Regions from separate parts of the Homo sapiens genome. Here region 2 is linked to region 1. The links come from fine-mapping of genetic effects on gene expression. Tissue or cell type: blood mononuclear cells. Region 1 holds a variant in brackets; the other region holds the start of a gene. All regions are shown on one strand. Distances are from middle to middle. Region 1 overlaps EPHA8 (EPH receptor A8). Region 2 holds the start of C1QB (complement C1q B chain).

Region 1 (5,000 bases):
AATGCTGACAGAGGCCGGGTGCAGTGGTCCATGCCTGTAATCCCAGCACTTTGGGAGGCCAAGGTGGGAGATCACCTGAGGTCAGGAGTTCAAGACCAGCCTGGTCAACATGGTGAAACCCCATTTCTATTAAATACACAAAAAAATTAGGCTGGCAGCAGTGGCTCATGCCTGTAATCCCAGCACTTTGGGAGGCTGAGGCGGGTGGATCACAAGGTCAGGTGTTCGAGACCAGCCTGGCCAAGATGGTGAAACCCCGTCTCTACTAAAAATACAAAAATTAGCCGGGTGTGGTGGCAGGTGCCTGTAGTCCCAGCTACTGAGGAGGCAGAGGCAGGAGAATTGCTTGAACCTGGGAGGTGGAGGTTGCAGTGAGCTGAGATTGCACCACTGCACTCCAGCCTGGGTGGCAGAGTGAAACTCTGTCTCAATTAAATAAAAAACTCCGACAACCCCACTTGGTAGGGCAAGGAGAGCAGAAATCCTGCATTGGCACTGGCTCAGCCTGCACTAGCTCTCTCCTCGGCCACCCCCCGACCCCAGGGTCCTGGCACCTGGGCTGCTCCGCGCCCACGCCCCCTCCCTGCACTCACGGGGTTTCCCGGTCTCCACCTCCATGGCCTGGCTGAAGCGGCCACAGCCTGCTGAGGTGCGGGCTCGGACCTGGAACACGTAGCGGGTGCCCGGCTTGAGGCCGGAGACGGTGGCTCTGGTGGTGACGGCCTTGAGGGTGGAGTAGCTCTGCATCTCCTTGTCCTGCCACGGGACGGTGGTCAGTGGGCCCTGCCCTGCTGGCCCAGCCCCTCCCACTCCGTCCTGCCCGTGGTACCTTCTCGTAGTACTTGATCTCATACTCCAGGATGATGCCGTTCGGCTGCTCGGGCTCCTGCCACAGCAGCGAGACGCTGGTCTGCCCCGCCCGCTCTTGACGGATCACCACCACCTGGGACGGGGCTGGGGCGGCCAATCCCGTCAGATGGGCGGAGGGGAGACAAGGCGTGGCCTCTCTCCCAACCCTTCCCAGGTTCCACCTGGGGATCCTGGTTCCAGCCCTGCTCAGCTTCCTGATGGTCCTGCCCCAGCCCCAGGACAGCCAGCACCCTCCAGTTCTCCCAACAAATCGCTGGTGGCCACTTGGGGTCAGTCCCCTGGGGTTGGCGTGGCCTGGCATGGTCTGGGATGTTGGGGTTGGCTTGGACAAGAAGACGCTTGAGCCTCCCTCCCCAGCCCAGGGCCCGGCATGGACCAGCTGCTTGGGAGTGCTTGAGGAAGGAGGAAAGGTCAGGAGAAAGAAGTGTAGAAAGAATGGAGGAACTGGCCCCTCACTGCCTGGGTTTGGAGGGCATACCTGGGACAGTTCTGGATGCTGAGGGAAGGGGGTGAGCTGAGCCCCAAGTATTCTCCCAGTCACACTTGGTTGCCCGCCCACCCCTCCCTCCTTGACGGCGTCACCCATGCCTTTCTTCATGCATCTCTCCCTCCTGGCTCAGGTGCGGTCAGCCCTGTGGGGAGGCTGCTAGGAGGTGTCAGACACAGCCACGCCACAGCCAAACAGAGGGAACTGCCCTGTCCTCCCTGCCCCTCCAGCCCTCAGGCCTCCTCCTCCCCTCTGCTCACCCCGAGTTCTGACTCTCTGCCCTATGTGACTAAGTCTTCCCTCATGTCTGGGCATCCCCAGCACAACCGGGAGCTCCCTGGGGGCAGGGACTGCACACAGTAGGTGCCCAATAAATGCTGCTGAGGATTCTGGCATGAGAAATTAAGAAGCAGCTCCAGAGTTGCACTGGAAGGGTGTGGTCCAGGGGAAAGCCCACCAGTCTGGGAGCCAGGCGTGGGTTCGGGACTTGGCTCCCTCTCTTGCTAGCTGGGACCCTGGGTGAGTCACTTGCTGTCTGCGGACACCAGGTCCCCTTCTATAAAGTGAAGCTAGTGAGCACCACTTGCCAGGGGGAGGGGAGGATTCGATGAGGCCACTGTTTGCAAGGGACACACAGGGTGTGTCTCTTAAAAACCAAGGCAGGAGGTGCTGTGGGATGGGGGCAGACAGAGTGAGACCAGGGCCCAGAGCGGGAGGGGAATG[G/A]GGTTCGCGTCCGAGAGGGCTCCAGGGAGGAGTTGGTTGTAGAGAAGTGGTGATGGTGAGGCAGGAGGGGCAGGTGGTCTTTGAGCACAGTCCTCCACATTTGCTTAGAGCTGTCGCTTGATCCTCTAGGACTCCTGAGTGCCTATCACATGCTGGGCACGGGGCTAGGAGCCGGGAACTCTGCAGTGCCCAAGACATCCCTCTAGGAGCTTCTGTCCCAGGAAAGGAGACAGGGCGTCCAATAAACAGGAGAATGGGGGTTCTTTTGGTGCTGGGAAAGGTAGGAAGGGGTGCTGTCTGTGATGGAGAAGACCACTGCAGGGCCCGGAAGGGCACTGGCACGTTTCAGCTGAGGTGGTCGGGGGAGCTTCCAGGGCAGAGGAGCCAGGCATAGGAATGTCAGGGGAAGAGTGAGTCATTCCGAAGGAGAAGCCAGGCCACGGCCTAGCAGCAGGGAAAGACCCAGTGTGTTCAAGGAGGGGGCACCGGAGACCATCATGGCCAGAAGAGAGTGAGCCAGGGAAAGAGGTGCTCTGGAGAGGCAGGCAGGGGTGAAGCTGTGTGGGTCCACAGGCCATGAGAATGTCTGAATTGCATGTGCGCTCAGCCTAGGCTGTGAAGGGCTTTGAGGACAGCTTGTTCTCATGTATTTTCATCTAAAAAACTTGGGGGGCGGTGGTGCTGGGCATGGTGGCTCATGCCTGTAATCCCAGTACTGTGGGAGGCTGAGGCAGGAGGATCACTTGAGCCCAGGAGTTTCAGATCAGCCTGGGAAATATAGGGAGACCCCATCTCTACAAAAAAAAAAAAATCACTGGGCATGGTGGTGTGTGCCCTTGGTCAGCTACTTGGGAGGCTGAGGTGGGAGGATCACTTGGGCTCCGGAGATCAAGACTGCAGTGAGCCGTGATTGTGCCACCACACTCCAGCATGGGTGACAGATAGAGACATTGTCTCAAAAAAAATTTTTTTTGTAGAGATGGGGTCTTGCCATGTTGCCCAGGCTGATCTCAAACTCCTGGCCTCAAGTGATCCTCCCGCCTTGGCCTCCCAAAATGCTGGGATTACAGGCGTGAGCCACCACACCCAGCCCTCACTTCTATTTTTAAAGCTCACTCAGGACTGGTGTGGAGAATGTCTTGTGGGGGTGAGGCAAGAGGGGTCTCCTGTGGTGGTCCAGGCATGGACTCGTGGGGGGTGGAAGTCAGTTGGTCATTTTGAAGGGAGGTCCCTGGGGCTTTAGGGGGGGATGGATGTGACATGCATGAGAGTCAAGGATGACAGCTTGGGTCTGGAGGTGCCATGTCCTAGGGCGGGGCAGGTGCAGGTGTGGCAGGGTTGTTTGTTTTTCACATAACCGAATGGAGACAGGAGTGGGCAGCTGGGTCCTAGGGGAGAGGTCTTCGCTGGTGACCGCGAGTTGGGGGTTGTTAGCACAAAGGTGGAATTCAAAGTCATGGGCCCTGAAACAGCCGCCCAGAAAAGATGGATCTGGGCACACAGGAAAGAGAGGAGGGCCCAGGACATTCCCAGGGACCCATGGCCTTTAGAGGCCATTTAAAGGAGGTGGGGCTACAAAGACAGAGAGGGACAGGCCACACAGGTCAATGGAAAATGGGCGTGGGCTGGGACACACGAGCAAGAGAAAAGTGTTTCCAGGAGGAGGAAATGAAAGGGGGAAGAGGCGCCCATGGATGTGGCCACGCAGGGCTGCTGATTTCTGTGAAGAGGTGAGGAAAGACATGGAGAAGTCCCGCAGAGGAGAGGAAGAAGTAGATACGCCAGGCACGGACAGAGAGGGTCGTATGGGAAGAGAAATGGTCTGGTGACCGGAGGGGAAGGCAGGTTCAAGGCAGGGTCTAGTTTCCTCTTTAATGTTGGGGCATCCCGGATGCTGCCTGAATGCTGTGAACTTCTCTTGCTCTCCCCTCCACTTGGGACCAGCCTGCCAGGGGCCTCAGGTGCCTAGAGACAGGTGGGCCAGGGCTGGGCTCTACCACGGGGCACATAGCTCACTCTCTCTCTGTGTTGCCAGCACCTGGCACCACACTTGGCATTTAGTGGGTGTTCCACGAGGGCTGTCGAATGAGGGAATCTTCTGAAGGGCTGAGGCCCTGGCGTCAGGGAGCAGCATGCCCTAGATTCAGAGTGGGGGGACCTGCTTCACTTGGGAGTGACACAGACCTGGGTTTGAGCCCTGCCTCTGCCACTTCCTATGTCAGGTGGCCCTGGGTGCTCTCCAGGCCTCAGTTTCTTCCTCTGTGACGTGGTGGGCATATTGTCTGCGAGGCCAGGGCTGTGTGGTTTTGGGAGGAGATGGTGGGTGGGGGCCTGAGGGTCTTGGGCACAGGTGAGGGTGGCTGTTAATAGGAAGCTGCCCTAGGAGGGCTCTTGGGTCACGCTGTCACTTGACGGGCAGGGTCCTCCAGAGTTTGGGAAGAAAGAGGTTCCGGGGGTGAATTCAGCCCACCAACTGGCCAGAAACTGATAGATAAACTACTGTGGTCCAAGCCAGTGCAGCCAAGTCTATCCCAAGGGCAGCTGTAGCAGCTGTTCTGGAAAATGATCATCCGAGTGATTTTATTTTTTAATGACATTTATTGAGCATTTACCACGGGCCAGGTGCTGGGCTAAGCAATTTCATTCCTCTCATTTAAGCCTCCTGAGAGGACCTCAGGCAGGTACTATTATTCCCATTGCACCAGGGAGGAAACTGAGGCACAGAGAGGGAAAGTTCTGGAACCTAGGCTTTCGACGGCCACACTAGCCTGCCTCTGAGCTTTTGGGATTTCTCTTACTTATAGAATGTGTTCCACTTTTCTAAAGGCAATGAAGAGCCTCCAGCTCTGGGTCCTGGTGAGGAGCGCAGGGCCAGAGAGGCACTTGCCTAAAGGCCCACAGCACGTCCCCGGCAGAGCTC
Region 2 (5,514 bases), 62 kb before region 1:
GTATCTGTTTTTAATTCTTTGGGGTTTATACCCAGGAGAGGAATTACCGCTTATGGCAATTCCATGTTTAAGTTCCTGAGGACCCTTCAGCCTATTCTTAAGTTTCCTCAATGACACCTCTGCCAAGGTCCCCCGTGTGGTGCCTCAACGCACTCCCCTGCTGCACAAACGTTGTGTTCACTCAGCCCTAAGAACTAATCACAACGCTAGCTGCACATCACATTATTTCCTTGGAAGAGTCAAGCTGAACTTTCTCAGCAGAGTGTGAGGAAATGACATCTCTGCCAAGGGCTCTTCCATCCATAGTTTGCACCGTTTCAGTGATGGGCAGCTCATTACCTCTCGAGGCAGCCCATTCCACCTTTGCCCAGATCCAAATGTTTTTTCTTCATTCGAAGCTTGGGTCAAAGCCTTCTTCCTCCAGGAAACCTTTCCTCAGAGGCTGAACTGTATCCTCTCTTAAAATGGGGGAGCAGAGTGGTCTCTGCCTACTTCCCAGAGTGGCCACAGGGACCCAGGTGAGACCATGGATGGGAAAGAGTCATAAAGCCTTGAGCCCCAAGCTCTCATTGGGACTTGTGGCTGCTACTGCTATTGCTGCTGTTCTCTGATCCTCTCAACACCCTGGGGAAGTGGGTTGTGATTAATTTCCCATCTTGCAGATGAGGAAACTGAGGATCGGAACTTAGAAAGCAACCTACCCAAAAATCACCCAGCAAACTATTCTAACAGCAGGGTTGTGGCCAAACTCCTACCCTCTCTGCCACATGCTGGCTGTCCCAACCCCAGAGTCTGGCATGTGGAGGGCTCCCTGGGACCAGACAAGGCCTACTGATATTTGGCTCCTATGCTCTGCAAACCAGCCTCAGCCCCTCAGCCTAGTCCTGATCAATTTCTTGCTGAAAGCCCTGAGTTATGCCAGACACTGTGCACCAAGGAAAGGAAGCTGTAAAGATGAGTGTGGCCAGGGAATGCTGGTGACAGCTTTAGGTTCTGTCAGGCTCTATGCTCTGAAGACAGGGTGGCTCAGGGGCATGGTCCTGCTTATCCATGAATAAGCATCAGCTCTCACTCTTGCTCTTGCTAAAGGTTTTACAAAATGGCAATTTAACAACTTTAATAAGTTGGGTACGTATAGGCCAGGCTCTGAGCCAGATGGCTTGCATGCCATTATCCCCTGTAATTTGATATTCAGCCCCTGAGAATGCACTCTTGCTTTCTTATTTTACAGATGAGGCAACGGGATCAGAGAGGGCAAGCACCTTGATAAAAGTCACACAGCTCCTGTGTGGCTGGGAGTCAAACCCACATCCACTGGATCTTAAAACTCAATGTTATGTTAAGAGGCCACTGTACCTGGTGGTAAAAACATAAACTTTGAAGCCAGACAGCCTGATAAAAGGACTAATGCATGGGACACACCAAGGGTAGTGGTAGGCACATGGTCAGTGTTCGGTGAAAGTGGCTTTTTACCACCACGATGATTGCTGCTCTTGTTAGGCAGCACACATTCACCTGGTGGCGGGAGCCTGTAGTGTCACAAGGAAAGCAACACTCAGCGTTCACATAAGGTCTCTACTGCTTCTTAGCTAAGGGACTTGGGAAATCACTCCTTCTCTCTGGCCACAGTTTACCCTCCTATAAAGTGGGGATAATGCTACTCTCTCCCTCATAGGGTATGTGCGAGGACATGAGTTACAGCTTCCAACAGAGCCTGGCATGTTGGAAATTCTTAATGAATATTAGCTATTTTATTATTATCACTGTCATCCAAGAATTCCTGAGTGGTTGAACAGAAGGGAAGATGGTTGGAGAAGTAAAAAAAGACAATCCCTTTGAAAGACTGTGTTTAGAGGGAGGGGCTCTGTCAGTTGGAGGCAGCAAGGGGTGGAGAGCTGTGACCAGTTGGTGGGGAGAGAGGGTGGGGAGCAGGGTACTGACAGGACTTGGGCTTCCTGGGGAAGCCAGGGGCAGGGGGAGTGGGAAAGTGCTGGTTCTAGCCCATTTCAAAAGCCACCGAGTTTCAGCCTTGGGTTAGGGCTTACAACTCATCTGGTTTAACTGCCTCCTGCCTGTGCCAGCCCATCATCATTGCCAGCGCGGTTTCTCCTGTCCTCCCCCCAGGCTCTGACCTTTCCATCTCCTTCGGTCCAGCAGTCCCTTTCCGCAACATGGAGTCAGGCCCACTTGACTTTAAAGCCCCATCTGCTACCGGCTGCATAACCTCAGGCAAGTGCCTTAACCTCTCTGAGCCTCTTGGCAATGCTGATTTCAACCTGACAGGGCTGCCAGAAGGATGACAGGAGAAGGCGCTTAGAAGAAATAAGGTCCCCCCTGCCCCGTGCAGTGCCACATCCCACTCCCCAGCTGCACAAACATTGCGCTCACTCAGTACTAGCTGAGAACTCATCGTAACTCTACCTGCACATCCCCTTATTTCTTTGGAAGAGTCAAGCTGAGCTTTCTCAGCGAGTATGAGGAAATAAGCAAGGTGTTGGGGAAATGCTGGGCCGGGCAGGAGCGACTGGCTTATAATCCCACTCCTGCCTCTGGTTTACTGATAAATTTTGAGCCAGGGCATGCACTAAGCTTTTGCAAGCTTGATCTCCTGTAAGGCACAGCAGTGCTGAAAGATTCTGTTCTCTGTAGGGGGGCCGGGCTGAGAGAGGTTAGGTGACTTGCCCAAGATAACCAATACATAAGGTGCAGAGCCAGACTCAGCTCAAGTCTCTGCGATGCCAAAGCTCCTATGTGCCAGGCTCCCGCTTTAGGTGGCCTGCCCATCCGCTAGGCCCTGGGTAGCAGCAGACTCCCCAACTCACCCCAGAGATCTGGGTCCCATAGGTCTGGGATTGGGCCCAGCTACCTGCACTGTTAAACAGCCTAACTGGCTCCGAGGCAGGTGACGCAAAGCTCACACTTACGGAATCACCACTTTCTGCCATATTGGCCCTGCCAGCCTCCCCCAGGCGCCAAGCCCCGTCCTCACCTGGGAAGCTGGTGTCCTGTGAGGCCACTGGGCTGAGCAGCAGTGGGACCAGGAGCCGAGAGCCTACTGCCCTCGGTCCGAAGCGGAAGTTCCCTTCCCCAGAGGCGGGAAGGGCTTTCCCCTGACGGTCCCCTCCCATGGACCAGCAGGCTGGCCCCTTTCCCGTCCCCTCACTGTCCCCCCACCCTGCTGCCCTCAGGCAGTTTCAGGTCCTATTTCTGCAACCCACTGGATTTACTGTAAATGAGACGGGTGGGTGGCAAGTTTGGTTCTGCCAACTCAGCAGCTGTGGGGAGAACACGCTGTCCTGGGGGAACATCCACAGCTCACCCTCCCAGGCTCTCTGACCTCGTGATCTTCTTCTACACTGGGCAGGGGTGTTCCTCAGTGAGCATCATGTGGCGGGCCCGCTGCCTGAGTGCTGGCTTACAGTCAGAGCCTTTGATTCCAATCCCGCCTCTGCCACTTGCCAGTTGATGTGTTGTCAGTCAAGGGAGCCCCAATTTTCTCTGCTATAGGATGGGACCATAATTGTACCTGCTCTACAGATACAGATCTCACAGGCCACTGGGAGGATAATGGAGGAAATGATGGGGGAGGAAGTGTCTGGGGGTAAACTGTAAAGGGCTGTGCACGTGTTCATTGTTAATATCACTTCATGTCCCAGGCTTCCCCTTTCTGGGCTCATCTCTTCTGCTTCCTTCCCATTCTGTGCCCCTGCTCTTTCCCTGTTCTCAGAAAATAATCTCATAATGAATTTTAAATGTGTTCATTATTTATTGATACCCCTCCCTCTGCTTCCAGCAGGGCTGGACGCTGATGACAATAATAGGCCCAGGCAGGGGCCTGTTGCTTCTTCTCGATCCTGGAATCACGCCAAGTTAGGGCCGGAGAGGGGCTGAGGTTACTCGGCCCATCCTCCTCATTTTATATACGAGGAAACTGAGGCCCAGAGGGGAGACCCACCATTTAACAAATATTTAGTGTTTGCTTCCATGTGCACTGAAGAGAGAGCTCTTAGCAAATCAGCCATGGTCCCTGCCCCCATGGGGCCTCCCTTCTACGGGGGGAGACTGGTGTTAAACACGGAATGACATGAGGCTTCATTGCTTCTGTGATAAATGTCACAGAAAGACGTGACTGCTGGGGCCGATGCCTCATGGAGGTGGCAGATGCAGACCTGGAAGCCGGCATCCCTGGCACTAGGATATCAGTCTCTCCCTGTGGCTGCGTCTCAGACGACATGATGACTAGCAAGCACCAGGAGCTGGAGGCCCTCTTGACATCTGTGCTTGGAGATGGAAATTCACTGGGCTTGTGGATGCAGCTTGGTGGAAATTAAGTGTTAACTGCAATGGGTGAACAGGAGGGAAAGATAAGTTTGATAAAACCAAAAGGTCTCTGAGCTCAGTCAACTATAGTCCCGAAGGGACCCAGGCTAGGGTGAAGAGAAGAAACACTGGATTCCACAAAGGGAGAAACGAGTTAGTAGGTTGCAAGTTGAGGGCTTCTGAGCATTCCCAAAGCCGAGTGGCTCTGGGCCTCTAGTTCTTTTTTTTTTTTTTTTTCTTGAGATGGAGTCTCAGTCTGTTGCTCAGGCTGGAGTGCAGTGGTGCGACCTCAGCTCACTAGAACCTCTTCCTCCCAAGTTCAAGCGATTCTCCTGCCTCAGCCTCCCAGGTAGCTGGGACTACAGGTGCATGCCACCAAGCCCAGCTAATTTTTGTATTTTTTTTTAGTAGATACAGGGTTTCACCATGTTGGCCAGGCCGGTCTCAAACTCCTGACCTCAAGTTGATCTGCCTGCCTCGGCCTCCCAAAGTGCTGGGATTACAGGCGTGAGCCACCATGCCCAGCCTCTGGGCCTCTAATTCTTAGGTGGCTAAGGGCAATGGGAAAAGATGGATGTCAATTTGGGGTAGAAGCAGTGAGGCTAAGAACAGGAAGCAGCAGAGGTGGGTTAGGAGCACGGACTTTGGCAGTTTGAATCCCAGCTCTTCGTCTTGCTAACTATGTGGCCACGGGAATGTTTACTGGCCTCAGTTTCCTCGTGTAGAAATGGGAAGCATGAACGCCTATCTCCTGGGGCTGTTTTGGGGGCCAGCGAGGTCCCCCTGCCATGTCCAGGGCCAGGTGAGTGCCCAGCCCTTGGTGGGCACCCACTGCAAACATGGGAACGGTATTACTTATATGAAGAGAAGATGGAATTCTTGGAACCCAGGAGCAAAGAAGCCATGCCTGGATTAGGAGGAGGCCTGGACTTGGGGATCAGGAGCTGAGGGGTCCCTGGGCCTTGACCGCTAATGGGAGCCAGCTGGTCTCTGTACCTACAAAATTTTGGACTCACATCCCTGATTGAGAGTGGAAAATCCCTGATCCCTGCAAAGAGTGGAAAAAGAAACCTACACCCCCTCACCTTCCTGTGGTTGGAAAGGGGTTCCTTGCAGCTTGGGGTGTCTTGTCCTGGCTCCTGCCCCACGTCCACCCCTCCTTGCCTGCCCCACTGAAAAACTCTCCCCCGCCTC

The links. PIP is the estimated chance that this variant, and not a neighbour inherited with it, causes the effect. A credible set is the group of variants that fine-mapping cannot tell apart.
Region 2: C1QB starts here. The variant in region 1 is the best candidate, but not a certain one, in a credible set for the expression of C1QB in blood mononuclear cells (TOPMed, PIP 0.81).

Annotation. Positions count from the first base shown.
Region 1 is chr1:22,589,280-22,594,279 of GRCh38, reverse strand. EPHA8 (EPH receptor A8) reads right to left here. Exons shown (of 17, transcript NM_020526.5): 6 at 830-954; 7 at 594-756. Among named protein-coding and RNA genes, the nearest start is that of EPHA8, 28 kb to the right of the region's middle. The variant G/A (reference allele first, on the strand shown) is at 2,081.
Region 2 is chr1:22,650,779-22,656,292 of GRCh38, reverse strand. It overlaps C1QB (complement C1q B chain), which reads right to left and starts at 3,057. Exons shown (of 3, transcript NM_001378156.1): 1 at 2,990-3,057.